2 separate regions of the Homo sapiens genome follow, and region 2 is linked to region 1. Evidence: fine-mapped expression QTL. A gene starts in region 1. The other region holds a variant in brackets. All regions are shown on one strand. Distances are between the middles of the regions.

Region 1 (9,185 bases):
AGACCAGGAGGCGGAGGTTGCAGTGAGTCAAGATCGCACCACTGCACTCCAGCCTGGGCGACAGAATGACTCTGTCTCATAAGAAAAAAAAAAAAAGAGGCCGGGCGCGGTGGCTCATACTTGTAATCCCAGTACTTTGGGAGGCCAAGGGCCAAGGTGGGTGGATCAGTTGAGGTCAGGAGTTCAAGACCAGCTTGGCCAACATGATGAAATCCCATCTCTACTAAAAATACAAAACTTAGCCAGGTGTGGTGGTGCACACCTGTGATCCCAGCTACTCAGGAGGCTGAGTCAGAAGAATCGCTTGAACCCGGGAGGCAGAGGTTGCAGTGAGACGAGATCGTGCCATTGCACTCCAGCCTGGGCAACAAGAGTAAGATTCCGTCTCAAAAAAAAAAGAAAGAAAGAAAGAAAGTTCCACCAGACATCTGCCCAAAACCCTAGTCCCTCCCATGCTCCCACCTCCCACAAACAGCCAAAACATGGAATGGTCTAAGGTTATCTCCTGGTGTTTTGAGGGTTCCCAAGGAGAAGCAAAGGTACACAAATAAATTGTAAATAAATACACATATGTTGGAATGCTCCTCACTGACAAGAAGTTTAGAGACCACTGCACTGCCCTATATCACAATTCTGATGACATCACCTCCCCTGCTCAAAAGCCTGCACGATCAACATTTACGTCTCCTAAAGGGCTGGACACAAAATGATTTTAGGTGGCCCATGCAAAACCATTTATTACTTTCCTAACTATGCATGAATTAATTTTTATTCCTTTTTTTAGACAGGGTCTCGCTTCGTCACCCAGGCTGGAGTGCAGTGGCTCAATCATGGTCCACTGCAGCCTGTACCTCCTGCCCCAGCCTCTCAAGGAGCTTGGGACTACAGGGGCATTGCACTCCAGCCCGGATGACAGAGCGAGACTCCGTCTCAAAAAAAAAAAAAAAATCAAGTGTTCACTACGCATCAGGTGCAGCAGTGTGTTAGCGGCTTCCCATGTGACCTCATTCAACCCTCACAAGAAGCCTGTGAAGTTTCGGGCATCCTCGTCCTACCTGTTTCACAAGTGGGGGGCCCTACTGCTAAGCGCCTCGCTTGAGGTTAAGCTACGATTTAGAGAGCTGGGTGTGAATTCAGGAGGTCTGATTCCAGAATGAGTACTCCTTACCACCACCCCACGCTAACCACCACCCCACACTTTGTAGGGGAGATGAGGACAACTGAGGTTCAGGAAACAATGGCTTGGAAAGTGCAAAAACTGTTCAAACAACTAACCTGTATCCCTTACAATCCACCCCCAGTCCTGCACCAAGCTTTCTTTTTCTTTTTTTTTTTTTTTTTTTTTGAGACAGTCTTACTCTGGTGCACAGGCTGGAATGCAGGGGCACAAGAATGGCTCACTGCAGCCTCCACCTCTCTGGCTCAAGCAGTCCTCCTACCTCAGCCTCCTGAGTAGTTGGGACCACCGGTGCATGCCACCACACTCGGCTAATTTTTGTATTTTTTGTAGAGATGAGGTCTCACTATGTTGCCCAGGTTAGTCTCAAACTCCCGGGTTCAAGCAATTTTCCCGCCTCAGCCTCCCCAAGTGCTGGGATTTCAGGTATGAGCCACTGCACCTGGCCCTGCACCAAGCCTTTTACACAGATGGTCACGCGATCTTCCACAGGACCCCCTCATTCAATCCACATAAGTTCGCTAAAGACCTACTATGTGTCAGGCCCAGGGTACTGTGGGGCCAGCCAGGCAGACACAACCCCAGCTCTCACGGTGCTGGGGGTGACAGCTACACCGGAAAGGACCAAGTTGATGTATGAATGTAGCTGAGGGGAACAATGGCTAGTCCGAGGTGGCCAGGGAAAGTCAAAATACAATCCTGGCGCAGTGGCTCACACATGTAGTCCTAGCACTTTGGGAGGCCGAGGTGGGTGGATCACCTTAAGTCAGGAGTTTGAGACCAGCCTGGCCAACATGGTAAAACCCCATATCTACTAAAAATACAAAAATTAGCCAGGCGTGGTGGCGGGCGCCTGTAGTCCCAGCTACTCAGGAGGCTGAGGCAGGAGAATCGCTTGAACCCAGGAGGCGGAGGTTACAGTGAGCGGAGATTGGGACTCTGAACTCCAGCCTGGGCGACAGGCAAGACTCTGCCTCAAAAACAAAATACAATCCTACACACCCTCCCTGATTTTGAGGCCCCCTCTTCCAAGCAGCCCCCGTGATCTCTGGCTACCACCGATCCCCTGCCTGTCCGCTGTGTCCCTCTCACAGTGCAGGTTCAGAGCAATAAACGATAGGCCAAGAGAGTTTGTTCCCACATTTACCACCCGCTCCCCTCCAAGACTGCAGAGGCTCCAGGATCCAACCCCCGACCATCCAACACTTAGTAGGGCCTCAAGAAGTTATCTGCTGAACAATGAGGGAGATTGGACCAGACAATTACAATAGTGCTTCCCGCTTGCGAGGAACCATTTTACAGGCTTTCACCAATTCCATTTGGGAGATTACCCCCTTTCACAAAGGAGCTTTCACAAAGGAGGAAAACTAAGAGGTTCAGAGAGGTTAAGCCACTTCCCTAAAGTGACAGTGTGCTAAGTGACTGACAGCACCAGGAATCAAGCTTGAATGCAGCCTATCAATCCAAACTGAAAACTTGCTTCAAATTCCTGCGAAGCGGCTTTTCCGCTTATTCCCTTGCTACTTTCCCCAAGGAGTCACTGACCAAAAAAAAAAAAAAAAAAAATCAAGACTGGTATCTTCAAGATCGGGACAAAACACTCGCCCAAAAGGTCCACGTTGAAAATAAAAGCCTTAATCTGAAAAACCAATTGGGAAGGAGAAAAAAGGATGCAAAAGAAAAGCAATGCTTTTACACAGCAAAGGATTTCCTCCGTGCTCCCCTACTTGCCGCCGACCCCATCCCCAACCCCAATTCGGGCAAACATTTTGAAGTCACTAACTGCAAGGCATCGGGGGAGTCCTTTACCTTTCCTTGAAAATCTGGAATGACACGTTTTTAAGACAATTTGAGGTCGGCTAGCCCAAGGGGACCGCTAATGCCCGTGTCCGGCCGACGCCGGACATATCTGGAGGTTTGGCTGAGCCCCGATCGCAGCTTCGCCAAAAACGCAACATTCGGGTCGGACCCGTTACCACGCAGCCAGAAAAGCCCCAACGCCTGCCTATTGTTGCAGCCGCTGTAATTGGGAGGGCGACTGTAGGGGTGCCGGGCGAGGGGGGCGAGCTTTGTCCGGCGACCCCGGCGAGAGCGCGCGCGGAGAGGATCGCGCGGCCTCCACGCGGCCCGGGCCCCCCACCCACCCCGCCGCTCCGCGGGGGCCGCCGCTGCCACGGCCTCGCGACACTGTGGCCTTCCCCACGCGCGCGGCTGCCGGCTGGGCTTCTTGACCCTCGGGCGCCGCCGTACCCCGGCCCCGCACAGGGCGCGCCGGCAGCCCCCTCCCCCCTCGGCGCCCCGGCTCCATTCAAACCGCCCTCCCCGGCCCCGCGCCGCGCTGCCCCCGCGGCCCGCGTTCCTTACCAGGAGCCGCCGGCGCCGTCGACTTCCCGGCGCCTCCCCCGCCCCTCCGCGCGGGGCCGGGGGCAGAATGGGCGTCTCGCTTCTCTTCACGAAACAAAGAAGCCGCCGCCGCCGCCAAACGAGGGGAAGCCTCGCGCGCGCGCCCGCCCGCCTCGGCCACCGCCCCCCCTTCACACACACGCGCGCCACCCGCGCCCCCGCTGCGCGCGCGCTCGCCGGCTCCCCTCCCCCTCAGCACCGCGGCGGCCTCTCCAGCTTCCGCCGCCTGCCCGGCCTCGTGCGCGCGCCAGCCCGCCCTTCCGCTCCCGGCGCGCGTGCGCGCCCGTCCCTGGGCGGACGGGGGTGGGCGTGGCCCGGAGGAAGCACGCGCGTCCGATGCACCGCCCCACTCGGGCCGCGATGGCCCCGCGCCTGCGCACGCTTCGCCTTCTGCACGCCTCGCGTCTTGACGCCCCGGAGCATGCGCAGAGCGGACGCCACTGCGGCGGCGGTGGCGGCGGCCGCGGTGACGATGGGGCAACTGGAGAATGGGATCCCGGTGGCCGTGGGGTCCGTGGGGAAAGGAGGTCCCTGAGGCTCGGAAATAGGAACCCTGGACCGTAGGACGGGCCGCCTGGACCAAGACCGGGCAGTGGTTTCCCGCGGGCCAAGGGCGCGCCTGGGAACCGCTTTGATCCCTGACCTGGGGCGGCGAGGCCTATTTGGGGAGGCAAGGCGGGGCCCGACCGTGGCCGCCTTCTCTGCAAAACTTCCCAAGTGCCATTAATTAGCTTAGCAAATATTTATTGATCTGCTACTGTGTCCCAGCCGCCGTGGAGCCCTCGGTCTAGTGGGGAAGGAGGACAAGAAGCAAGATTAATAAGCAAAATAGTGCAGTATGAGAGGCCGGACTTGGTGGCTCACGCCTGTAATCCAGCACTTTGGGAGGCCGAGGCGGCCGGATCACCTGAGGTCGGGAGTTAGAAACGAGCCTGACCACCATGGTGAAACCCGTCTCTATTAAAAATACAAAAATTAGCCGGGCGCGGTAGCTCATGCCTGTAATCCCAGCACTTAGGGAGGCCTAGGCTGGTGGATCATGAGGTCAGGAGATGAGACTATCCTGGCTAACACGGTGAAACCCCGTCTTTACTAAAAATACAAAAAATTAGCCGGGCGTGGTGGCACACGCCTGTAGTCACAGCTACTCGGGAGGCTGAGGCAGGAGAATCGCTTGAGCCCAGGAGGTGGAGATTGTAGTGAGCCGAGATCGTACTATTGCACTCCAGCCTGGGCAACAAGAGTGAAATTCCGTCTCAAAAAAAATAAATAGTACAGTGTGAGGTGAACACTGGGAGGATCATGGACATTTTAAATAGGGCAGCCACGGAAGTCGTCGTTGCAAAGAACACGTTTGAATGCATACAGGCTGGTGGTGAAAGAGAGAAACCTTCCTCCGAGAGTGAAGGCCCTGAGCCTCTTGGCCTCTTCTGTGTGTTTTCTTTTTTGTGTGTTTGTTTGTTTGTTTGTTTGTTTGTTTGTTTGTTTTGAGACGGAGTCTTACTCCATTGCCCAGGCTGGAGTGAGGTGGCACGATCTCAGCTCACTGCAACTTCTGCCTCCCAGATTCAAGCGATTCTCCTGCCTCAGCCTCCCGAGTAACTGGGACTACAGGCGTCCGCCACCACGCCCGGCTAATTTTTGTATTTTTAGTTGAGACAGAGTTTCACCATGTTGGCCAGGCTGGTTTTTAACTCCTGACCTCAAGTGATCCGCCCACCTCAGCCTCCCAAAGTGTTGGGATTACAGGCGTGAGCCACCTCACCTGGGTGGGTTTTTGTTTAATTGTTTGTTTTATTAGAGACAGGGTCTTGCTCTGTAACCCAGGCTGGAGTGCAATGGTGTAACCACAGCTCAGTGCAGCCTCAAACTCCTGGACTCAAGGGATCCACCTCAGCCTCCCAAATAGCTGTGACTACAGGTACATGCCACCACCACCAGCTTTTTTTTTTTTTTTTTTTTTTTGTCTGTTATGTTCTGTAGAGCTGAGGTCTGCTGTGTTACCCAAGCTGGTCTCAAACTACTGGGCTCAAGCAGTCCTCCTGGCTCAGCCTCCCAGTGCACTGGGATTACAGGCATGAGCCACCAAGCCAGGCCCCAGAAGGACCTGGGTTTAAAACACGACTCCATTTCTACTACCTGGGTGATGCATGGGTAATACCAGGCAGGTTTACCAGAGCATCTACACCTCACTTTCTTCACCTGTGAAACAAACAATAAGGCTGGGTGCGGTGGCTGACATCTGTAATCCCAGCACTTTCGGAAGCCAAGGTGGGCAGATGACCTGAGGTAAGGAGTTCGAGACCAGCCTGGCCAACATGGTGAAACCCCGTTTCTACTAAAAATACAAAAAAATTAATTAGCCAGGCATAGTGGCAGGTGCCTGTAATCACAGCTACTCGGCAGGCTGAGGCAGGAGAATTTCTTGAACCCAGGAGGTGGAGGTTACAGTGAGCCAAGATCATGTCATTGCGCTCCAGCCTGGGTGACGAGAGTAAAACTCCATCTCAAAAAAAAAAAAAAAAAAAAAAAATGCTGGGCCCAGTGGCTCACGTCTGTAATCCCAACACTTTGGGAGGCCAAGGCAGGTGGATCATGAGGTCAAGAGATTGAGACCATCCTGGCCAATGTGGTGAAACACCATCTCTACTAAAAATACAAAAATTAGCTGGCTGTGGTGGCGCGTGCCTGTAGTGCCAGCTACTCAGGAGGCTGAGGCAGAATTGCATGAACCCAGGAGGCGGAGGTTGCAGTGAGTCGAGCGTGCCACTATACTCCAGCCTGGTGACAGAGGGAGATTCCGTCTCAAAAACAAAACAAGACAAAACAAAAAAAACCCACCAGAAACAATAATGGCTCCCACTTCCACTGTTTGGTTATGAGGAATCATGACAGCAGGTAGCCCACCTGCTAGCTCTCTGATCCTCAGCTAGTGTTATTGAATAGTGCACAGTAAGTGAGCAAGTAGAAGTGGGATCTGAACTCGATTCCTCATTCATTCAAGTAGTTATTTTTTTGTTTTTTTGTTTTTGTTTTTGAGACACAGGCTTGCTGGGTCATCCAGCCTGGACTGCGGTGGCACGATCAGTACTCACTGTAGCCTCGACCTCCTGGGCTCAAGCGATCCTCCTGCCTCAGCCTCCCGAGTAGCTTGGACTACAAGGGTGGGACACCACACTCAGCTAATTTTCTTAAAATTTTTTGTAGAGACAGTCACACTATGTCGTCCAGGCTGGTTTCAAACTCCTGGGCTCAGGTGATCCTCCCACCTCAGCCTCCCAAAGTGCTGGGATTACAGGCGTGAGCCAAGGCGCCCGGCCAAATAGTATTTCTTATGCTCTCTCCAAATGCTAAGCATTGAGCTAGGAATACCCTGCAGCAATGCATGGAGGAGGCAGGGTTGCTGCCCATGGAGTGGATGGTATGACTGTTCTCTAATTGTCTTTTATGCTAATCACACTAATATGCAATAGTGTAAAGAAAAACAGGCCGGGCCAGGCGCGGTGCCTCACGCCTGTAATCCCAGCACTTGGGAGGCCGAGGCAGGCGGATCACCTGAGGTCAGGAGTTCAGGACTAGCCTGACCGACGTGGAGAAACCCTGTCTCTACTAAAAAAATACAAAATTAGCCGGGTGTGGTGGTGCATGCCTGTAATCCCAGCTACTTGGGAGGCTGAGGCAAGAGAATCGCTTGAACCCAGCGGGCAGAGGTTGCGGTGAGCTGAGATCATGCCGTTGCACTCCAGCCTGGGCAACAAGAGCGAAACTCCGTCTCAAAAAAGAAAAACAGGCCGGTTGTGGTAGCTCATGCATGCCTATAATGGCAGTACTTTGGGAGGCCCAGGCTGGCAGATCACTTGAGGACAGGCGTTCAAGACCAGCTTGGGTAACATTGTGAAACCCCATCTCTACAAAGCAATACAAAATTTGCCAGGTGTCTCAATTAAGAGCACAGTTCTTAATAATGAACTGCCCCTGGGACCTTGGCCCCATGTCTGCATTGACACCCTTGGCTTCCAGACTTTAAAAAAAAAACATCTACAGGCTGGGCGCAGTGGCTCACGCCTGTAATTCCAGCACTTTAGGAGGCCGAGGCAGGCAAATCACAAGGTCAGGAGCTCGAGACCAGGTCAATATGGTGAAACCCTGTCTCAACCAGGCACGGTGGCTCACGCCTGTAATCCCAGCACTTTCTCTGGGATCGCAAGGTCAATATGGAGTTCGAGACCTGGTCAATATGGTGAAACCCCGTCTCAGCTGGGCGCAGTGGCTCACACCTGTAATCCCAGCACTTTGGGAGGCCGAGGCGGGCAGATCACGAGGTCAGGAGATCGAGACCATCCTGGCTAACACAGTGAAACCCCGTCTCTACTAAAAATACAAAAAAATTAGCCAGGCGTAGTGGCAGGCGCCTGTAGTCCCAGCTACTCAGGAGGCTGAGGCAGGAGAATGGCGTGAACCCGGGAGGCACAGCTTGCAGTGAGCTGAGATCCCGCCACTGCACTCCAGCCTGGGCGACAGAGCGAGAGTCTGTCTCTAAAAAAAAAAAAAAAAGAGAGACCCCGTCTCTATTAAAATACAAAAATTAGCCAGGTGTGGTGTCAAGCACCTGTAGTCCCAGCTACTCGGGAGGCTGAGGTAGGAGAATCGCTTGAACCCAGGAGGCGAAGGTTGCAGTGAGCCAAGATCACACCACTGCACTCTAGCCTGGGCGACAGAGACTCCATCTCAAAAAAAAAAAAAAAAGAAGGGGAGGAGAGGGCAGGGCAGGGGAGGGGAGGGGAGAGGAGGGAACGGGAAGTGGGGGAGGGGAATCATCCCAGAGGAGAATGGATTTTTTTTTTTTTTTTTTTGGCGCAATTTCCGCTAACTGCAAGCTCCGCCTCCCAGGTTCACGCCATTCTCCTGCCTCAGCCTCCTGAGTAGCTGGGACTACAGGTGCCCGCCACCACGCCAGGCTAATTTTTTGTATTTTTAGTAGAGACGGGGTTTCACCGTGTTAGCCAGGATGGTCTCGATCTCCTGACCTCGTTATCTGCCCACCTTGGCCTCCCAAAGTGCTGGGATTACAGACATGAGCCACTGCGCCCGGCCTTCTTCTTTTTTTTTTTTTTTTTTGTTTTTTGAGACGGAGTCTTGCCCTGTCACCCAGGCTGGAGTGCAGTGGCTCAATCTTGGCTCACTGCAACCTCCACCTCCCACCTCCCAGGTTCAAGAGATTCTCCTACCTCAGCCTCCTGAGTGGCTGGGATTACAGGTGGATTCTTCTCTTTTACTCAAAGATGAGGGCTTGAAATAACAACTCACCCAAGTCCAGAACATGAAAATGTAAAATACATTGACTTCAGTTGCCACTGCAAGTTAAACACCTTTTCAGTAATATCTCCAGATCTTCCTTGGAATATGAAATCACTCATTAGTTAACAAAATGTGCATTTATTCATCAAAAATGACCTCTTGTGCCTGGGCACAGTGGCTCACACCTGTAATCCTGGTATTTTGGGAGTCTGAGACGGGCAGATTGCTTGAGCCCAGGAGTTCAAGACCAGCCTGGGCAACATGGCGAGACCCCATCTCTACTAAAAATACAAAAATTAGCATGGCA
Region 2 (16,534 bases), 63 kb before region 1:
TTATCAGTCTTATAATGAAACACAGAGAAAAGTTTAACTCATTTTCAAATTCTTGTAGCTATGTAACAGCATGACCTGGTATCCACCGATGCCGAGGCCCATGAGGGGTACATGGTTATGGAACAAGAGGAGGAAGTAAACGAAGTGGCATGGAGTTTACCCCCAATTGTGTCTGAACAAGCGCCAGTGTGTGTGCTCACAGGGCACACTGCAGGGGCCGCCCCACAGTGACGGCGCAGATTGATCAGGATACTTTCCACCTCCTCATGGGTGCCATTCCAAGATTTAAGAAAAACCAAACCGACGGATGGCTTATACACTGCTTTCCCAATCAGAGGGAAAGGCTGTTTGTATTTTGGGAAACAGGAGGACCCCGCCTCTTTTCTCCCTGATGACCTATGGAGATATGGGTGCAGCTCCTCCCGGCTCCTGGGGTCCAAGACAATGTGGAGGAGGCTGGAGGACCCTCAAGCCAGGGCCGTCTCCTCGAGGTTTTGCAGGCACCCCCTTCCTTCTCCTCGACCTGGGGCCCGGCCCGCTTTTACCTGGTGAGGATTCCAGTCGCTGTCAAAAATGATCACAGTGTCTGCCGACTGGAGGTTCAGGCCGAGCCCCCCAGCCCGGGTGCTGAGCAGGAAGATGAAGTACTCAGAGCCGGGCTCGTTGAAGGTTTTCAGCAGCATGCCCCGGTCCTCCGCCTTCGTGGTTCCTGACGGGCACAGAGGAGAACAGGGTCAGCGGGGTGACCTCAGGGGTAGAGTGGGGACACCAAGGAACACCTGCTTCTGAGAGCAGGAGCAGGATCAGCACCTGCCAGCATCCCCAGATCCCTGGCTCCGCACTCTCCACACGGGCCTGTGGGCCACTGGCGAATAACTGGATTTCCAGTGTTTCACCACAAAACGTCTCTCCACACATCCCAGAAATGAAAACAGGCCCCGCTGGGAGAACTAGAGGAGGTGGGCCTGGAGCACAGAGTCCAGCACCCAGCCCACAGCTAGGCCACAGCGTCCAGCGTCAGCACAGCCACCACCACCACAGCCCTGGATTCTCTCCTCTACTCTACCCTGTGCCATTCCATGGGGAGCGGAAGACACAGCGGCCAATGCCGGCAACACCGCCGCTCGCAACACAAGGGACCTGGGGGTGGGTGGACAGTGACTGTGGGTGCACCTGCCTTCAGCCCTGTCTCAAAAAGTTTTGTGGTTCACAAAGAGAATCTTCTACGGTAAAAGCATGGAGACCTTATAAAGGGGGCTCGTGTCCTTTCTGGCAGGATCAGTGTCCCCATGCCCCAGAAAACCCAAGTCAAGGAGCCAGAGCAGGTCTCCTGGGTGACAACCCACGATGCCCTCAGCGTTGTGGGCATTAAGGCAATGTCAACACTCCCTGCGCTGCTGGGAGTTCGGACAGAGGTGCCCCTGAACACTGAAGTCATTTTGGTGATGAAATAAAAACTGGCAGGCCGGGCGCGGTGACTCATGCCTGTAATCCCAACACTTTGGGAGGCTGAGGTGGGTGGATCGCCTGAGGACAGGAGTTCGAGACCAGCCTGGCCAACATGGTGAAACCCCGTCTCTACTAAAAATACAAGAAAATTAGCTGGGCGTAGTGGCGGGCGCCTGTAATCCCAGATACCAGGGAGGATGAGGCAGGAGAATCGCTTGAATCCAGGCGGCGGAGGTTGCAGTGAGCTGAGATCATGCCACTGCACTCCAGCCTGGGCAACAAGAGTGAAACTCCGTCTCAAAAAAAAGAAGAAATAAAAACTGGCCATTTCCTGCCACCAGCCTACACATGCCCAGGCACGGTGCAGAAGCCCACAGTAGCCTGGCCATCCACCTGCCGTCCCACCCTCTCTCAGGCACCAGATGTGCCCCTGCTACTCCAGCTCGGAGGAGGGGCTGAGGTGAGGGGCCACCCGGCTCCCAGATGCCAGCCCACCCATGGGAGATGCAGTCTCAGGAGACTTCACTGAGCTCCTACCCTTCCTCTACTCGCAATGGATTCTCTGGCCCTGTGGCCATGACCACATCACATGCAGAGGACACATCTGTAGTTCAACTGACCAAAGTCCTTGTCCTTATGGAGTAGGCAGAAGGGCACTGGGATGGGTGGGAACCAGGCTCTCTCCTGGGGGAGTCAGGGACACGACACAGACGGGATGGCCCTCAGGAAGCCTTGGCCCTCTCGAGGACGGGAGAAGCCGCTGGAGAGACCGTAGGAGAGGAAAGGGTGGGGGGTGGCCCGGCCATGAGGACCCTGAAGGATTTTGGTTTTCAGCCTCAAAGCTGAAAGTGGGAAGCCCCCAAGGAAGAAGGCAAGCCGGGGAGACCCCTGCAACAGACTCGTGTCTGTAGAGTGGTCCTGGACAGAACCCCGGGGAGGACCTGCAGTTTGGAGGGACACACAGGGCACACTCCGGGTGGCACCTGGGCAGGTTGGCCCAGCAAACACAGGTCCAAGTGATCAACGGGACAAGGGGTATGGAGGTCTGGGGTGTCCTGCTGTGAGACAGACCTTGCACAGGAGCTTCAACAAAGGCTCTGGGAGGTCGTGTAGGGAACAACAAACTGGCTGAGCCGTGTCTGTCTCAGCAGCTCATGCTCGTGTTTCTCGTAAGCCCAGTTCTAGTAACTCCCACGAAGAACTCACTCCAGGGCTCCCTGACCCACTGGGACTGACAGACATGTCTCACGTGCCCTGTCGGCATCTCACAGCCTCTCCTCCCTGAGCTCCCGTGTGCTGGGGCAGGCAGGCGCAGAAACACAGGCGGTGACCTTTCCCATCAGGGACCGCAGGGCAGGGGGTTGGGCTGAGAGCCTCTCTACGGCAGCTGCTGCTCCTGCCTGGCAGTGCTTGCTTCCCTCCCTCCGTGCTCACCACAGAGTCTGATTCCAGGTCCAGGCCTGACCTGTGGCAAGGTGGCAGTCACTGGGCTGCTACGAATGGCCCAGGGATGGGCATGCGGCTCACAGCAGCTAAATGAGAGCCAGCCTGGGACCTGCCTTTGTTGGGGACACTGAGCAGGTGGAAAGGAAGCCAAGATGGAAGAAGGCAGAGCAAAGAGCTGGAGAAAAGTCTCTCCAATATCACCTGCATGCCTGGATCCAGCTGTGCCTGAAGGATGTTTAACCTCCTGGGGTTAGAGCTATGTAAGCCTATTGGTGCTTTCTTTCCTGTGTCCACATGGTATGGAATTCTGTCACTTCCAGCTAAAAGTGCACAGGGCACCCCTTCCCCAGTGCGCCCAGCATTGTCGTGGAAAGACTGTCAGCCTAGGAGTCAGGACACCCGGCGTCCAATCCACGGCCTGTCCCAGTGCCGAGTGCCCAAGATGCTCAGCCTGTGGCTAGGCCCACTCTGGCCACTGGACCCAGAGCGCCTGGGCCTCACCCTGCCTCACAGGAGGGAATGCCAGTGAGGAGCTTCTGTGGCAGCCACAACAACAAAACCCTGTAAGAAACGCCTCACTGGCTCATACTCACCATCAAGCCTGAGGTATTTAAAGCCGCGATACGCAAAGTAATCTTCCATGATGGTCATGAGGGAGGTCATTTGGCAGAACAGCAGCACTTTGTGGTTGGTTGCTCGGAGTTTGGGAAGAATTCTATCAAGAAGCTCAAATTTACCCGAGGCTCGGTACAGGTCCAGCCTGGAGTGTGGAGGAGGCAGGAGAGAAGGCGCAGGATGTTAAACCTGGAACCCTGCAGGCAGGTAAGGCAGGAGGTGCATCGCCCGCCTCCAGGCCAGGCGCCGGGTTCAAGGGCACAGACATGCATCCTAAGCAGACGTCACCCACCCAAAGCTTCAGCAAAGCCATTTCCCCCAACTGAAATAAGCCCGGCCACCCTCGCTGGGGAGGCGTATCACCAGGGTGGCACATGTATTTCTCGTCAAACCCAGACACTCATGAAAATGAGAGGAGCTGTGAGTCACATGGCCGGCACAACACGGGGCTGGAACAGGGATGCTCCGGGAAGCCAGACCTTGTCCCCTTGCCCGATAAAGAAGCCCCAGGAGCAAATGCCACACTGGAGACACCCATGCTCTGCTAGACCCAGAAGGAAGGGCCACCTCGGCTTCTCATGTTCTCTCCAGCCAAACCCCAAGTGTTGTAGATGTGGACACTGAGGCTGGCAGGGGGACGACGTGATATGGCTGACCACATGTCCAAGCCAGGCCTCCCAGCCTTGAAGCCAGGTGTACAGGACCCTGTTCCACAACTCAGTATAAAAAAACACATCAAAAAGAATTTGTGATGTTTTCATTAGGCGCCTCTCTTCTTGCAAATGGCTTACTACCCCAGGGGAATTGAATGGAGGCTTTAGCTGGAAGAATGCTTTTAGCAAGGTTCTTTGCAATGGTGAAAATCTAGACACAGCATCCACATCCATTAGGGGCTTAAAGGAGTCTGGGCTGCCCCTTACAAAGGGTGCTATAGAAAACACCCACATGATGTAAAGAGTGCCTCTGTACTAGTGAGCAGAGTTTAGGCTCAGAGAGGTTAAGAAAGCTGTCTAGAGTCACAGAGCTTGGAGGCGGCAGAGTGGGATCTGTAAGCCAGGTCTGCCTCAGGAATCCTGTCTCTTGGGGTTAATAGTGGTCAGCTCTCCAAGCACTAAAGATTTGTATAATGGGGCCGGGCGCGGTGGCTCACACCTGTAATTCCAGCACTTTGGGAGGCCAAGGCGGGTGGATCACTTGAGGTCAGGAGTTCAAGATCAGCCTGGTCAACATGGTGAAACCCCATCTCTACTAAAAATACAAAAAATTAGCTGGGTGGTGGCAGGTGCCGGTAATCCCAGCTACTCGGGAGGCTGAGGCAGGAGAATCATTTGAACCCAGGAGGCAGAGGTTGCAGTGAGCCGAGATTGTGTCACTGCACTCCAGCCTGGGCAACAAGAGCAAAACTCCACCTCAAAAAAAAAAAAAAAAAAAGATTTGTATTATTTGCTTTGGATTCTTCTGTATTTTCTAATTTTCTGCCTTTGAAATTGGACAACATAACAGCAGCAATAAAGCCAACAAAACGACAGAAAACCTCTGGGTGGACCACCTGCCCACCCCATCCAGTTGGGAAGCTTCTCACCCTTGGACAATGCCGCCAGTGAACCCCAAGTGCTCGGAAAAGGACTCCTGCAAGGCAAGGAGAGAGGGGTCAGTGACAGGCAGGAGCAGGCCACCGGGCCCCGCTGCGGTCCGCACACACCGCTCGTGCTCAGAGGACAAAGCCCCCACACTGTGTGCTCGGCACGGGCCCACGGCGGCTCTGAGACCAGACACAGATGCCAAAACCATCTTTCTTAGTCCACTGACATCCTTTCCCTCACACTCCTCCAACGAAGGAAAGGACATCCCATACAGCACTCTTCACACCCTGAATGCACGAGGACGTCATGGGGCCACAGCCACGCTCAGGGTGCTGAGACAGCCCCAGGGGCTCTCGGGGCAGCAGGCGGTCTCCAACGACCCTGACACTTTACACCAAGAAACACGAACATATGCATGCTTCTAAGAACCCAGATTCTCAAAGCCACCATGACCAAAAAGGGTTCTGACTCCCCCACACTTCACTGAAGACGGTGGTGACTCTTGACGCCCCGCAACGTGAGAAAAGCCAGTGAGCCAAAGAGACGCAGCAGGACCCCACTGTGGGGGGACACATCCCCAGAGAAGTCTCCAAACGCTCCTGCTCTCTGAGGGCAAGCTTTCAGGGCCCTATATTCCTATCGCACGTTGCGCCCTAACTGCTGGGATTCTTCCCGTAAGCACTGGTGAAGCGAAGACCAAATGAGAGACAGATGTACAGGCATTACCTAATGAAAATATTCGAGTCTGTTTTTAAAGAGCTGTCGAGGAGAAGCCAGCTCTGCCTAGGAGCTCAGCAGACAGCAGGGCCTGAGCCGTCCCAGCCGCGGCGGGCTCACCTCGATGTGCTGGAACATGTAGGGGTGGTTGCAGATCTTCCGCAGCTGCATGATGGTGTTCATCAGGGTCTTGGTGCCGCCTTTGCCCTGGAAGGCAGATGAGAGGGACCCAAATGGGGTCTTGCCCTCCTGGGGTGGGGTGGGCTTGGTGGATGGGTGGGTGTTGGGAGAAGGGCCATGGGGACGCTCTAGTGGGGAAGAGTGGCTTTTGGCACAGCAATTGGGAGTGAGGAGATGGCAGGCTGGAGGCCCGGAGGCCCCCAACAAGCCCTGGGAAACAAATGACTGCCTGGCACAGCAGAGGGCAGATGGCAGGGACAGGGCCAGCAGGACGGGACGGAAACAAGACTGGCAAAGGGCTGAGGCAGAGTCCCCGATGCTTTGTGATGCCAGCTTTGTTCTGGGCACTGTTACTGTGGGGGTCCCTAGAGGGTCTCAGCTGGGCAAGAGGGCCTCAGCCGGGTGAGCCATGACTCAGGGCTCCCTGGGCTCCAGGATGAGGAAGGAGGTGGGGGCGGGGCGGGGGGTGCATGCTCTGGGCTGGGAATGGACTAGGGAACACACTGCTGCTCAGCTCAGGGGAGAAGGGGCACAGACACAACGTCTCGGGGAAGCCAGGCCGAGGTCAAGGCCTTGGGGGCAGAATCAAGGGGTCTGGTGCATTTCCTGGGAGGATAATTTCACTGCTGGTGAGGAGAGCCAGGCAGGTGGGGCCTGGGGCCTGGGATTCTCAGAGCAGCCCCTGCAGGAGACAGCCCGCTCCCTTCCTTTCACTTAATAACAGAGAAGGGGGGCATTCTAGAACACTCTAACCCTGCTGGGGTTAGTGCTGGGCCCAGGCTGCCAATTGCAGAAGGAGCCAGTGTTTCATAGGCAAAGGAGAAGCCACTGGCAGCTGAGTCAGTGTGTCCTGACACAAGCCACCAGCCATCATAACCAGGGCTGGCCAGATGCCCTGGGGATCATGACCAGATCATGACCCGATGGTCAGAGCACGCTCTGCTCTGCCTGCCACGCTGCCGGCCTTGGACACCCAGTGGGGAATGCAGTTGGGGGACTCTGGGGCCCACCTTCTTGTCCTTCTCGGAGCCATCAGTCAGCAGCACGCCCTTGGCCTGCATGTGGCGGTAGAGCACTCGCTGCAGCGCAGACATGTCGCACTTGATGACGTACTCCACCTGCAGGGGACACATAATGCTCACGAGGGCCCAAGGTGGCTTGAGGCCTGACTCCCCCCATCCGAACCCAGCTCTGACCCCCTCGGCCCTGTCATATGAGCTCTGACCAGAGCACACTGGGGTGTGGGTGAGGAGACCCTCACAGCTGGGGAGAAGAGGGGAGACCTGGGCAATGAGAGGAAGCACCAGGCAGAGATACCAGAGGGTTACTGGGCCAGAAAGGGCCCCCCAGCCATCTTCTGGGGGCCTCTCTACAGCCAGCCAGGAAACAAAGAGCCAAGAGGGACAACTGCAGCCGGGGACCCCGAGTCCATGGGTCTTGCTGTGGGAACTGGGCCCAGGGGTGTGGCTGCAGCAGGCCTTGAAAACCCAGAGCCATGATGGGGGGCCGGGGGGCAACCCCAAGCCCACGGCCCCTCCTGATGTGGCCAGGAGAGCCCGCACAGGCACCTGGCCCCCTGACAGGAAGTGGGATTTTGTGCTCTAACCTATTGTGAGCTATGTGAGCCTATGAGTGCTTTTCAATCCCTACAACAGCAGCACAGGGCTTTACAGACCCAGTGGCGTCATCGCCACCCCCAAGCTGGATTGACCAGGGCAGGCCTGGGACTGTGGGGAGAGGCCCTGAGCACGCCCAGCCCTGGAGAAAGCCCCCACGTGAGGCTGCTTCACTGGTGGCTCCCCTCAAAACTCCATCACCTTTTCGGGCAACTGGGCCTCGACTTCCTTCTTGAGTCGTCGGAGCAAGAAGGGCCGCAGCACTTTGTGGAGACGCCGGATGATGAGAATGGTTTCCTCCTCATTCAGGTCCACCTGGAAGCCCCCAAGACAGGAGAAGCAAGCGTTACCTCCAAAGGAGGGCGACAGAGGTCTCACTAGAAGGTGCGGATGTGGGGACAGGGTGGACGGGGTCCCCTGGGGTGATCTTGCCCTTGGCACGTGGCTTTTCAGCCTGCTTTATGCTTTCTGGGAGCCAGGCAGGGCACCCTCTTCCTTAGGAAACTGTGAGGATCTGGTTCCCTCCATGTAATTCCTGGGACATGGAACCGCAGTACCCAGAGCACTCTGCTCCCTGTGCCTCACCAGAAAGACCCCCGGCAGCGGGCATGCTGCTTCTCCACGAGTAACACAAACTGGAGTGTCCACAGACCCACCCCACGCCAAGCTCATGCCAGGAGCGCTGCAGGGGCCAGGCTGACCACATGGGGCTTATAGCGGGTGATTCTCAGGGAGGGCTCTGCCACCGGGAGCCCCAAGGGACTCTCATTCAGCCTGGGTGGAACCAGG[T/C]GAAAGAAACCCTGACCTCCCACGGCGCCTACTCCTCTACTAATAATTAACTTTTAAAATGTTTTAATTAAAAAAGTTAAAGGAAAATGAGACGACGCCAAAACTTTTCTTCTATTGCTTCCCTGGCAATCCTTTGGCAGAGCTTTTGCTCGGCTCAGAAAGTGACAAAACTATAGCATCAGATCCTGGCCCTTAGTGTGGGGGTCCCGGGAGTCTAAAAATTGGGGACTCCTTTATCACGAGGCTTTGGGGAATGCCTCGGTTTCGCCATCAGAAGAGTCTCTGCCTTGACCAGCAGCCGAGAGGGCAGGGAACTCACGCATGAGGCCAGGAAGGCCCCAGCTGCCCTGGACCTGTCTAAGGTGGGAAGAAGGGGGTGGGCCCAGCCGTGCTGGGCAGGGCACTTCGAGGTAACCTCTGTAGTTCTGCCCACACTTCAGCATCTGGTTACTTAAACCCCTCAGCAGGAAACACAGTCTGTCCCACAGTTTCAACCTCCAACAGCAAGGAGCTCTAGGCTCAGGGATCAGTGCTGGTGTGGGACCACTCATCAATGATGATGCTGCCATGCCACAGTCTGGCTGATGGTGCCACCCAGACATTGAGACACACTGGCCACTGAGCTTTTTGAAAACAACGTAAGACAGAACCTGACCATGTGGCCCCGCTAACTGGAATCTTCCAAGTTTCCTTCCCACTGCCCTGAGGGTGAGTTCTGAGGGCACCTAAAGGGGCCTACAGCACGCTACAGCCTCTAGCTGTGCTCTCCACACGCTTGCGGTCCCACAGCTGCCTCAGGGCCATCTTCCTCACCATCCACTCTGCACCTGGAGCATAGGGTCAGAGACGCCCCGAGCATTCCGAGATTCACCACCATGACCTCTGCCCTGCTCCCCTGGGGCCCTTGTGGCTGCCCCAGCCTTGGGTTCCAGGGCTCCCCTGCTCCATGCAGATGCAGACTCTCACCAGGCACCCAGCACAGGCCCAGCCAGCTGTAGCTGGTGCTCAACACGTTCCAACCAGCAAAGCCAGCCGCACCTGGAACCGTCAGCATGGGCACAGCTGGGCAAACCCACCTTTTCCCCGGTCATGGCAAAGGGTGCGTTAAACCACTGCTCGAAGGTGCTGCAGCTCTTGAAGATGGTGGGCAGCAGGAAGTTGAGCAGCGCCCAGAGCTCGGGAAGCTTGTTCTGCAGCGGTGTGCCCGTCAGCAGCAGGCGGCGGGGTGCCACATAGTGCGTGTTGAGCACCTGCGTCAGCTTGCAGTGGTGGTTCTTCATGCGGTGACCTTCGTCCACAATCATGTACTTCCAACGGATCTGCGGGCCCCAGAGTGGGCAATCAGGGCAGGGGGCAGCAGGTGGCCCGGCACATGGGGAGAATCTCCCACTCTGCGCCCAGCAGCCAGGAAGGCTCCAGGTGGAAGAGCGCAGCTGGGTGGAGAGCACAGGCCTGACGTCCTGCCCCGGGGCTGACTCACCGAGTTGGAGCCACACAACGTAGCCTCTTGCAAGCCTTGGGCAGAGACAGGCCCGTGACCCCATGACTATTGGCAGGTGAACAATGCAAATTGCAAAAAAGCAATCTGGCTTCCCTGCAAAATCACACATATGAATCTACAGCACAGAAAAATGCCGAGCACGTTCTGGCAGAAGACACATCTTGCTGACTGGGGGACTTGTCCTGCTGGTGTGGAGGGTCTCAGGGGAACTGGGTTGGTGACGGTACATTTCTAATGAGCAGCCTGTGGTTCAGAATGTGGGCCCCATGGGGTAGGGGCCAGCGCCACTACATACAGGGCCATGCGGGTCGGGAGGGGGCGCAGTGGCCGCACTCAAAGAGCACTCCCACTGCAGGGTGATTACATCAACTGAGCCACTGGCAGGGGAGCACGGGGTTTCAGAGCCTGGTTCCTGTGCCTGCCAACGGCCTGGCTTTGTAAGGAGTCAGCAGGGGTGAGCCACAAAGGAGGCACCTGAAGCATGGACCTGAGGTAAGAGCCTGCACGTGGGATACCCAGCTCCCTGGGCCTCAGTTTCCTCCCTTGTTGGCTCCGGGATAAAGCACCCAGTCCTCGGAAGGCTGAGGCAGGAGAATCACTTGAACCCAGGAGGCAGAGGTTGTTGCAGTGAGCTGAGATCGCTCCACTGCACTCCAGCCTGGGTGACAGCTGTGAGACTCTGTCTCAATAAAAAAAAAAAAGAAGAGAAAAAGAAAAGAAAACACCCAGTTCACAGCCCCAGTATTCCAGTACTGTCACTCCAGCCATGCACTGAGAGGCGGAGCCACCCATAAACAGCTCCTCCATCCCCCCATACCTGGGTCAAGAACTCTACTGTTAGGCCAGACACAGTTGCCCAGTGCTTTGTGAGGCCAAGGCGAGAGGATTCCTTGAGGCCAGGAGTTTGAGACCAGCCTGGGCAGTACAGCAAGACCCCATCTCCATAAAAAATAAATTTAAAAAAGTTAGCTGGGAGTGGTGGCGCACACCTGTAGTCCCAGCTACTCAGGAGGGTGAGGTGGGAGGATCGCTTGAGGCCAGGAGGTCAGGCCTGCAGTGAGCTGTGATCACATCACTGCACTCCAGCATGGGCAACAGAGCGAGACTCGGTCTCAAAAAAAAAAAAACCAAAACGCAAAAAACTCTCTACTGTTCAACACTCACTCAGCTGGATGTTTAGGGGTGAGACCAGGTACATCTTTACCCCTCCTCAAATGAGGAACATGAGTTTTTGGAGGCAGAGGGCTATGTCTGTTTTCTATCTGGGCCGTATTCTCAGTCATGGCCACGCTGGGACTCCCTTCACAGTTTCGTCCCAGAAGAGGCTTCCAGGACAGTAGGACCCTCACAGAACAGCCCGAACCAGCTGCCCAAGGCCAGCAGGCAGTCATGGTATTTGGCCCTCGAGCTCTCCCCCACATGCTGAATCTCAGCCCATGGCCTGTGGTGAGAAGCCAGGGCCCCAGGGAGGGACGGCCAAGGCAATGAGACAGGAGGACAAGACTGGTCTGGCCAAGGCCCCATGGGGACTCTGTAGGCGGGTCAGGAGACGCCTTGGTGCTGAGGCTCTCTGGGCAGAAGGCCCGAGAGGAGGCAGAGCGCATGCTGTGTAGATGGCCCCAGCTTCTGGGCCTGACTCAGGGCCTGCCTGGAGACAGTTAGGGAGGTAAACCTGAGGTCGCCCCCACCTAGGCCTTTCCCCTACACAGGGCAGCTGTCTTCACGCACATGCAGGTGGGACTCCGGGAAGAAACTTGTAGGGGCTTTGGAGGAGACGGGCAGCGTGACCCACGTGTGAGCACTCGGCCCATGGCCTGGCATTTCCCACAGGGACACGTTACCTTGGCGAGGATGTGCTTGTCTTTGATGATGTACTCGTACGTCGTCAGCAAGACGTTGAACTTCCCACTCCGGAGCTGGGGGACAAAGGCCCGTCTTGCTGCTGGGGATCCCTGCAAGGGAAGCAGGATGCACAGCTCGGCTTTTGGAGCCGGGTGGCCAGGTGGCAAGAGGGGCACAGGCACCCCCTGCAACTGCCCAGTGACACGGCGGGAGGGCTCGTCCTCACAGGGGTAGTGGGGAAAGGGGCTGGCAGGGCCGCTGGCGCGTCCCCAGACCTCACCACGCAGAACACGCGCTGCAGGGGGAAGAGGAAGCAGTGCAGGCCAGCGGCGGCCGGGGCCTGAGGGAACCACGCAGCCTGCACCGCCATCTGCACATTCCTGGTGGCTGACAGGCTCCCCTCTTCCTGGGTCCCCATCTCAGGCGCCTGAGCTGGCCTCTGAGTGCTGGCCACCATGCTCACTCCTGTCTCCTCCCCAGTGAGCTAATCTGCCCTGTCCCTGCCCAGTCCAAACTCCCGGATCCATGTGACTGGAGTTCCAGGCTGTCCTGGAGACTCCATGCGACTGGAGACCCAGCATTCTCAGGTTCACTGTCCAGAGGTATGTGTGGACGTCCTGCCCACCACCGCCTGCACCTCCGTAGCAAGAGAGGAAACCTCAGTGGCTGTGACCTACCTTGTAAGACACCTTCACCACGGAGGGGGCCCACTTGTCAAACTCGTACGCCCAGTTGGACAGCGTTCTGATGGAACAAGGAAATGAGAGTCAAGTGCCGGTCTCTCATCAATGGCTCACTGTGCAAACCCATAGCCACTGGCTGTCAGGGGCGAGGCCAACATGGCCACAGCCCTCCGAGTGGGCAGAGAAACTGTGTTTAGGGCAGCTGAGGGAGGGAGGGAGGAAGAGAGACTGGCGAGGACGTGAAGGGCTCTGCCTCAGAGGACAGAAGGGAGGCCACTGGGAAAAGAGGGCAAGGCCCTTTAGAGTGAGAAGTAGGGACACAGAGATGTGATGGGGGACAGAAACAATGCTGCCAGGGCTGGGGAAGCCTGGACCTGCTGCCGGGAAAATGCAGCTTCAGAGCACAGGCTTCACGCCCAGAGCCAGGCTAGCAACAGTGCTGTGGAGACCTGAGGATATAGGAGACACCAAACAGTCTTTCTGCCACCCTCCAGCCACGGAAGGTTCCTGACTGTGAGAGAGAACGAGGACAGTGAGGGGCGAGGCGGGGCCTGGCTCAGGTGGCAGGCGGGAGGACAGGGATGGGAGGGAGCGGCAACTCGTGGCTGTTCCCCTGTGGGATGACCAGGGCTGGAATGAGGGAGGACATGGGGGCAGGCAGAATGCAGTGGGGAGGGGTGAGTCACCTGAGACCGACAGCCTAGAGACTGAGGAGAGGGTGGAGGCGGTAATAAAGCTGAGTCCCAAAGGGGACGGGCTCTGGGAGGAACTCTGGGGCAGGGAGTTTTCAGTGGGGGAGGGAAGCCACTCAGAAAGTCTAGACGGGGTGGTCCGTAAAGACAGGGCTCGAAGCTGGAGTCCCAGGGACTACTCGTGGTTTGCCCCCAAGCAGCTCCACGAGGGAGGTGCTGTGTCCACCATGAACCCATCTCCAGCCCCGCTGGAAGCCACAGCCAACCAGGCGGCACAGCCAATAGACAGAAGGACGCATGGCTGTGGTGAAGGCTGGGGAGAGTTCCTGAAGAAGCGTGGGGAGCAGAGGCTCAGCAGCCTTGCGCTTCTGCTGCCTTTTGCCCTGCCCACTCTCCTAGAACTCTTTCCTGCCCACTCTCCTGCATGAGGCGAGGGAGGCAGTGCAGCCGTCCTGCAACCATGAGGTAAGGAGCCTGAGGGTTGGAGTCACCCAAGAATGACTGGGCAGAAACCTGGGGGAGGCTGGGTCCCTGATGGCATCTTGGAGCCACCGGACCTGGCCCGTAGGGCCTGACCCTGTGCTTCCGCTGACTCAGGAACAGTGAAACCTCCCTGGAGTGATGGGGACAGTCAGCGCACCAAGGGAGAAGCCGGAGGTGTGCGGAGCATCTGCACTGGGAGGGAGAAGAGCCAGGAGCAAGGGTCAGGAGGGGACTGAGGGGACAGGTCCCAGAGACAGAGGTCCAAACGGAGGCAGGACAAGCAGCTCATGGCAGGAGGCAGCAATTCCCAGTGAGAGGGCCGGCACAGCCGGATGCCCATACGCCGTAAACATTTCCTAGCGCGCGGGCCCTCTTCTGGCCTGCAGGAGCTGGCGTTCCACAGCATGGACGCTTGCCCAGGTGGGGCGCAGTGGGAAAGACTGCAGGAGCACCCACCTCACAACCTCACTGAAGTAGGGGAAGAAGGTGACCTCTATCACCCTGGAAATGGAATCTGACTGCAATCTGGAGGTCTGAACACACAAGGAACTGGCCCCAAGGCCTGCGCTCTAGTGGCTCAAGATGCTTCCCGGAGGTACCGGCTCACTACTCTGAAACTGTTGTCCACGGAAGCTGAGAATGGGCGCACACACAGGGTGGAAGTGTGAGAAGGAACCTGTGGTCCTCACTCAGAGCCGCAGACAGTGGTATGAACTCACGTTCAGCTTAACACAGAAACAGATGCCGAGGCAGAGAAGGCCTTTTAGACGATACGTGCACAAAGCATCAGCACGCGCACATGAATCTCCTAGCACTGACCACTGAGAGGGCCCCAGGAGCAATGACACCCCAGAAGCAACAGGCCCATCCAGGACCCAGGTCTTGGTTCCCAAAACCATTCTGTAAGAAGGGAAACCAGGGCTCCTTGGAGAAATGGCTGATTTGAGGGAGTGGGCGGGAAATAGACTACATGAGCCTGCAGCATCTCTTGGTGCCAAAAAGCAAGAAAGTCCTCAAAATTCACCCGATGCTGGGGGCGTGTCAAAGGACAGAAGAGCCAACTGAAAGCACTCCCAGTGGCCAAAGCTGGATGGATTTGAGCCACAAAACAAAAAAAACCCAGCCACTGGTGCGTAGCCTGGAGTACTAAATAAATATCCGTGGGTCCATACTCATATTAACAAATGACTGAATACATAGAGAAGACACAATTCTTCCAGGGAGAATTCTCCCAGGCCAAATCTGAAAAAAACTGAAGCAACAAAATAAATAATATTTGTTCACGCCCACACTGATATAATAATTACCCAAACAAGCACATGGGGGAGACGGGAAAGCTCTTCCTAACGGTGGAATTCCAATTAATTTGTAGAGAAGAGCGGACAGAAACAGGTAACCATGTATTTGGCAACTCTCATGTAATTATTTTTTCAGGCAAGACTTATCTGACGTTTGCTGCTATAGTTTGGGTATCTGGCACCTCCAAACCTCATGCTGAAGTCTGATTTCCAATGTTGGAGGTGGGGCCTGGTGGGAGGCATCTGTGTCATGGGGGCCTCCCTCGTGAACGGCCTCGTGAACCCTCGTGAACGGCCTGTACTGTACTGGGGATGGGGGATGAATGAGTTCCTGCTCTCTGAACTCTCGTGGGAGCTATGGTTAAAAGGAGCCCGGCACCCCCGCCTCCCTCGCCTCCTCCCTCCCCATGGGATCTCTACACACTGGCTCCCCTTTGCCTTCCACCAGGAGTGGAATCCGCCTGAAGCCCTCACCAGGTGCCCAGTCTTCCAGCCAGCAGAATCATGAGCCAAATAAACCTCTTTTTTTTTTTGAGAAGGCGTTTCATTCTTGTTGCCCAGGCTGGAATGCAATGGCACGATATTGGCTCACTGCAACCCCCGTCTCCCAGGTTCAAGTGATTCTCCTGTCTCAGCCTCCTGAGTGGCTGGGATTACAGGCATGCGCCACCATGCCTGGCTAATTTTTTTTTGTATTTTTGGTAGGGACAGGGTTTCACCATGTTGGTCAGGCTGGTCTCAAACTCCTGACCTCAGGTGATCCGCCTGCCTCGGCCTCCCAAAGTGCTGGGATTACAGGAGTGAGCCACCGCGCCCAGCTAAACCTCTTTTCTTTATCACCTAGTCTCAGGTATTCCTTTATGGCAACATGAAATGGAGTAGAAGAGATGCTGAAATTATTGAGGAAAGTAGGAAGAGAAATGAGATATTCACAAGTGTCGAAGTACGTTCCCACGAGACAGTTATTAACGGAAAGTGTAACTCCTAGGTTTACAGTGGGAAACCCAGCAGGCACCTTGCCCGAGACACCAAGGCCTCAACATCTCATGCCTTCCCCGCTAAGGCACATCAAGCAGGGCGTGGTGTTGCTCCACGCGATCACATCGGACAAACCCAAATTGAAGGAGAGTCTACCAAAGGTCCGATCAGGATTCAACAGCGTCAAGCTCGACCAGGACAAAGACGAAATGAGGAACTGCCACAGGCATGCCACACAGACGTGACAGTGTGGGATCCTGGACCAGAGCAAGGCCACTTGTGAGAAAACTGACAAGATTGGTAAATAAGGCCTCTGGTTTGCTATTAGTCCTACGTCCATGTTATCTTCCTGGTTTTCATAATTGTCTTGGGGTTATGAAAGAATGGGGAAGATGGGTGAAGGGTGCATAGCAATTCTTTACACTAACTCTACAATGTTTTCTAAGAATGAGGTCGCCAGGCACAGTGGCTCACTCCTGTAATCCCAGCACTTTGGGAGGCCAAGGCGGGCAGATCATGGGGTCAGGAGTTCAAGACCAGCCTAGCCAACATGGAGAAACCCTGTCTCTACTAAAAATGCAAAAAAGTTAGCCGGACATGGTGGCGCGTGCCTCTAATCCCAGCTACTCGGGAGGCTGAGGCAGGAGAATCGCTTGAACCCA

What was found.
Region 2: its variant is fine-mapped to the expression of SMARCA4 in whole blood (TOPMed, PIP 0.92).

What each region holds. Positions count from the first base shown.
Region 1 is chr19:10,955,531-10,964,715 of GRCh38, reverse strand. It overlaps SMARCA4 (SWI/SNF related BAF chromatin remodeling complex subunit ATPase 4), which reads right to left and starts at 3,686. Exons shown (of 35, transcript NM_003072.5): 1 at 3,542-3,686. RefSeq lists an enhancer at 672-801 and silencers at 3,319-3,378, 3,429-3,488, 3,539-3,958.
Region 2 is chr19:11,014,905-11,031,438 of GRCh38, reverse strand. SMARCA4 (SWI/SNF related BAF chromatin remodeling complex subunit ATPase 4) reads right to left here. Exons shown (of 35, transcript NM_003072.5): 17 at 12,416-12,482; 18 at 11,738-11,848; 19 at 9,472-9,714; 20 at 7,808-7,921; 21 at 7,001-7,108; 22 at 5,931-6,017; 23 at 5,093-5,139; 24 at 3,489-3,655; 25 at 546-709. Among named protein-coding and RNA genes, the nearest start is that of SMARCA4, 62 kb to the right of the region's middle. RefSeq lists an enhancer at 2,795-3,295. The variant T/C (reference allele first, on the strand shown) is at 8,396.